Linked DNA regions of Homo sapiens: region 1 is linked to region 2. Evidence: fine-mapped expression QTL. Tissue or cell type: whole blood. Region 2 holds a variant in brackets; the other region holds the start of a gene. All regions are shown on one strand. Distances are from middle to middle.

What was found. PIP is the estimated chance that this variant, and not a neighbour inherited with it, causes the effect.
Region 1: LOXL1 starts here. The variant in region 2 is fine-mapped to the expression of LOXL1 in whole blood (TOPMed, PIP above 0.99).

What each region holds. Positions count from the first base shown.
Region 1 is chr15:73,925,274-73,927,773 of GRCh38, forward strand. LOXL1 (lysyl oxidase like 1) reads left to right here and starts at 1,189. Exons shown (of 7, transcript NM_005576.4): 1 at 1,189-2,500. The coding sequence starts at 1,511. All of the region lies in intron 1 of LOXL1-AS1 (LOXL1 antisense RNA 1), which reads right to left. RefSeq lists an enhancer at 1,695-2,500 and a silencer at 2,437-2,500.
Region 2 is chr15:73,949,974-73,952,809 of GRCh38, forward strand. It overlaps LOXL1 (lysyl oxidase like 1), which reads left to right. Exons shown (of 7, transcript NM_005576.4): 7 at 1,858-2,163. The coding sequence ends at 1,864. Among named protein-coding and RNA genes, the nearest start is that of LOXL1-AS1, 23 kb to the left of the region's middle. RefSeq lists an enhancer at 2,558-2,836. The variant G/A (reference allele first, on the strand shown) is at 1,430.

The DNA of each region.
Region 1 (2,500 bases), 25 kb before region 2:
TTTATAAGCCCAAGAGGGCAATTTCTGCCCTTCGGTTCCCAGGAACACGGTTGGAGAAGGCAGCCCAGGGGAGGCCAGAAGAGCAGTATTTGGAGTGTGATTTCTTGGATGCCAAAGCGTTCAAACTTCTGGGACCCCCTCCTATCCCTGCCATTCCCAGAAGGAACAGAGAATCTCCCAAAGCACTCTCAGGAGCCATCTGGCCTAATCTTCCATTGGTAAGCCGTGGCACCTGGATCAGATAGAGTAAGGGACTAAGCCACACAGCAACAGGACCAGGCCAGGTCTCCGGAACCCCCTTCTGTTGTTCAATGCTTACTGGCTTCTCTGCCTCACAGTGACCCCTGTCCCATATCAAAGACAGCCCCCAGTTTCATTTTATCCATGTGTACACTCAAGTTATTCCCAGGCTATGCAGAGCCAAGAGATGTAGGACAGAAACCATACGTGATGTCTGGGAAGTTGATCTCTCCCAGGATCTCACAAGTGCTTTTCAGCTCAGGGATACACCCCACTCTTCAGACTGGGAAAGTAAGCCCCTGAGGTGTGCCACGAGGGAAAAGGTGCAGCTCCAGTGCCTCTCTTCGCAGGCCCAAGAGCTGCGGTGCACCTGGGACCTGGAATTAGAGAGTGGTCCCTGTTCAGCATCTCCCCGAGGAGGCCCACCAACAAAGAGGGTGTGTCTTTTTTTTTTTTTTCTTCCTATTGAGGGTGTGGGATAATGGTGGAAGGAACATGCAAAGAGGGTGTGTCTTAATTAGCACTGGCTTTAGGGAACAAGGAAAAGGGAGAACCCGGGAGTACGGGAAGGAGGCTGGGGCAGACAGGAGTCAGAGGCCCATTCCAGCCCAAACGAGAAGCCAGTGAGCAAGGTGGAGACCAGGGATGCTGTGACCAAAGCAGAGAGGAATGGGCGGGGTGGTGCTGACACCCCAGCCCCGTTCTGCCTGCCAGAGCCCCACTTACCAGGCCCGAGTCCCCAGAGGTCCCCTCCTACTCCCTGCTCGATTCCCTTCCTCAGAGGCAGGTCTGTGGCTTGGCTGGGAACTCCAGGGACTGAGGGAGCACTGCAGCTGTGGGACCGGCGCATAGCTAAAAGCCGGCGGGCCATAGGGCCCCGCGGAGGAGGCCCCAGCAGGCGGACCAGGAGGCCGAAGCCTCCCGACGCTCCCAGCCTGTTGCTTATTCATTCAGAGTGGGAAAGCGCCAGCCGAGCGGCCAGCCAGTGCGGGGCTGGCCATGTAAGGCCCACAGGCGGTCCTGCCCGCCCGGTGCCCTGCGGAGAGCCTCGTGCAGCCCTGGGCACCGCCCCTGCCCTGCCCTGACCCCTTGGCCTTGAAATGCTGTCATCGGAGGAGCCGTCCCGCTCGGGACAAGGCCAGCATGGACAAAGCTAGAGCTGGGGCAAGCAAGGAGCCTTCCTGTCCTCGAGGCCGTGGGAAGAGAAGCACGCCCAGGGGGCCACTCCTGAGAGCCTCTCTGTCCACCAGGCCTCTGCAGAGGGGTCACCATGGCTCTGGCCCGAGGCAGCCGGCAGCTGGGGGCCCTGGTGTGGGGCGCCTGCCTGTGCGTGCTGGTGCACGGGCAGCAGGCGCAGCCCGGGCAGGGCTCGGACCCCGCCCGCTGGCGGCAGCTGATCCAGTGGGAGAACAACGGGCAGGTGTACAGCTTGCTCAACTCGGGCTCAGAGTACGTGCCGGCCGGACCTCAGCGCTCCGAGAGTAGCTCCCGGGTGCTGCTGGCCGGCGCGCCCCAGGCCCAGCAGCGGCGCAGCCACGGGAGCCCCCGGCGTCGGCAGGCGCCGTCCCTGCCCCTGCCGGGGCGCGTGGGCTCGGACACCGTGCGCGGCCAGGCGCGGCACCCATTCGGCTTTGGCCAGGTGCCCGACAACTGGCGCGAGGTGGCCGTCGGGGACAGCACGGGCATGGCCCGGGCCCGCACCTCCGTCTCCCAGCAACGGCACGGGGGCTCCGCCTCCTCGGTCTCGGCTTCGGCCTTCGCCAGCACCTACCGCCAGCAGCCCTCCTACCCGCAGCAGTTCCCCTACCCGCAGGCGCCCTTCGTCAGCCAGTACGAGAACTACGACCCCGCGTCGCGGACCTACGACCAGGGTTTCGTGTACTACCGGCCCGCGGGCGGCGGCGTGGGCGCGGGGGCGGCGGCCGTGGCCTCGGCGGGGGTCATCTACCCCTACCAGCCCCGGGCGCGCTACGAGGAGTACGGCGGCGGCGAAGAGCTGCCCGAGTACCCGCCTCAGGGCTTCTACCCGGCCCCCGAGAGGCCCTACGTGCCGCCGCCGCCGCCGCCCCCCGACGGCCTGGACCGCCGCTACTCGCACAGTCTGTACAGCGAGGGCACCCCCGGCTTCGAGCAGGCCTACCCTGACCCCGGTCCCGAGGCGGCGCAGGCCCATGGCGGAGACCCACGCCTGGGCTGGTACCCGCCCTACGCCAACCCGCCGCCCGAGGCGTACGGGCCGCCGCGCGCGCTGGAGCCGCCC
Region 2 (2,836 bases):
TACAGGCCTGATGTCTGCATGTTCACAGTGGCACACAGTGAACAGCAGCTGTGATCATTAGTGTCCTTTTCAAGTGGACTGGATTAAACAGTCACAGATTAGAAGTGATTCTGGTTCAAAGGAGCCATCTTCAGTCCCTAGGCCCCCATTGTAGAAGAAGTGCCTAAAATCTGGGCTTGGGATTTTGGCACATGCTGCTGGGTAGGGTCCTCAGTCTTTCTCCTGATTCCCCATGTGAAGTAGTTTGCAGAGGGACCCCTTGCTTACAAGCTCACAAGGAAACCCCACCACACTCCAGATCGAAGCAACCCTTTTCCATTAAAAAAAAAAAAAAAAATTAGTCCTAGAGCTTTCAGCTTTAGTTCATCAACTGGGAGAAAGGTGGTAGAGATCTTAAGGCCCAGAGAGGTATCTTTCCCTAAAAGTGTGTACTTATTAATGGATGGCAGGTATGAGAGATTAAGCCTATGACTATGGTCAGGGTGTGGTGTATGGCCAGGGTCAGGATTCAGTCTGTGACAAGGGTTAGGGCTCAGTGTGTGACAAGGGTTAGGACTCAATGTGTGACCAGGATCAAGGCTCAGTGTGTGACCAGGATCAGGGTTCAGTGTATACCTAGGGTCAGGGCCCAGTGTGTGACCAGGGTCAGGGCTCAGTCTGTGACCAGAGTCAGGGCCCAGTGTGTAGCCAGGCTCAGGGCTCAGTGTGTGACCAGGATCAGGGCTCAGTGTGTGACCAGGATCAGGGCTTAGTGTGTGGCCAGGGTCAGGGCTCAGTCTGTGACCAGAGCCAGGCTCATTTAGAGACAGCCCTCTCACACTTGGTTGCTACCATCAACCTAACTGTTCACAGCATGCTGCCACCACATCATGAATATTAAAAATGGGAACAGCAGCCTCCAGTTCAGTGCAGAGATTAGGTTCCTCATGAGTAGAATGAGATCAGAATTCCCCAGGGCACACAGCATGTTTGAAAGGACGAACTCCTGTCCCATCACTGGCAGTTTGGCTCTTTAGCAGGCCTGGGTTTCCAGCACATTCCTGCTCCTCAGGGCCTGTCTTAGCCATTCAAGACCCAGGGTCACCTAAGTGGTAGAAGCCATTCTAGGGAAGGAGGAGGAAGGAAGAAGGGGGTATCCAGGAAACAAAGGAGGCTGCTGGGGGCTCGGGGAGGCAGGGAATCCCTCCTGCTGCTGGGAAAGGGGGATGGGAACAGAAACAGCATCCCACGTGCCAGGCGCCTGGAGCAGCCAGGAGGGCTGTCGGCAGGGCAGATGGAGAAGCAGCCTGCGCGGCCCTCCCAGCTCCCCGGGGGCCTGTGGGCAGCAGGGGGAGCCAAAGCCCTTCCTTCCAAGAGCTCTTTACATAAGTGCTTGGAAAGGCCGGGCCTTATTAGAGTGTCTCAGTCTCTGTGACCCTGACCGCAGGCA[G/A]GCAGCTGGGCCAGCGTGCACAGGAAGCTGGACAGAGCGTTCCCAGAAAGGCCACGGGACTGACGCCTGTGGGTTTCCATCGTGTTTCTGGAGGAAAAAGGAGGCTTAAAAAAAAAAAAGTACTGAGTTAGAAAAAACAAGAAAGTATTTCCAGACAGTAGCAGCTCTGCTAATGGCCTAGAAAACAATCTGGGACTAGGGCATGGGGAGGGGAATGTGCTGAGACTGTGCCCTGGGTGGGTGGGAGTCCATCAAACCCCTCCTTTTGGAGCTGGGCTGAGGGGGTCGGAACTTTCTCTTGAGGGAAATGTAGGCCCATGCCTGCCCTGCCACGAGGGATCTGGGCTGTGGGAGGGACGCCCTGGCTGAGGAGGCCACGGGGGCCTACTTTGCAGCCCCTCATTGACCCACTGTCTTTCCTTCCTCAGATCCTGATCTCCGGGAGGGACAGATGGCCAATCTCTCCCCTTCCAAAGCAGGCCCTGCTCCCCGGGCAGCCTCCCGCCGAGGGGCCCAGCCCCCAACCCACAGGCACGGAGGGGCATCCCTCCCTGCCGGCCTCAGGGAGCGAACGTGGATGAAAACCACAGGGATTCCGGACGCCAGACCCCATTTTATACTTCACTTTTCTCTACAGTGTTGTTTTGTTGTTGTTGGTTTTTATTTTTTATACTTTGGCCATACCACAGAGCTAGATTGCCCAGGTCTGGGCTGAATAAAACAAGGTTTTTCTACTCTGTGGCTCTGCATGCGGCCTGCTGGCTGGCTGGCCAGCCACAGCTAGTTTGGGCCTGGGGGATGTCCTTAGGCATCATCCTTCCCCTCGCCAAATGTGGAAAGGGCAGCCACCACCCGGTCAGGACCACAGTGACCATGAGGGCGCTGAGCCCATCGTGGAAGCCTGTGGGGTTGAGCCCTTGGCCAAGCCTGTCGCATGGGAATGGGACCACATCCGACTAGGGGAGGGCCCTGCAGCGGGGTGGGCGGCACCAGCCTGCTCTCCCTGCTCAGCCCCTGCTCCTATCTGGGCTCGTGTGCCCACTGCTGCCCCTTCTCAGCCTTCAGCCTCACACTCCCACCGGTCCCCCTCCTGGCCCTCTCACTCTCACACCGTTCACTCTCCACCAGCCACCCACTCCCTTACAATTGCAGGCTCCCGAACTCAAGTCTCCTGAAGGCCAGGTGCTGTGCTAGGGCACACGCAGGAGCATCGTAGCTTCTGCCCTCAGGGAGCGCATAACCACAGGGAACGGGGAGCACGCGTTGCCCAGTGAGGCAGCACCTAGGGGTTCTGGGGAGCCTTCACATGGGAGAGAGCCTCCTTCCAGGCAGGGAGGGGAGAAGAGGATTCTTGGCAGAGAGACAGCATTGAGCAGAGATCATGAGGTGGGGCTGCAGGCCGACAGG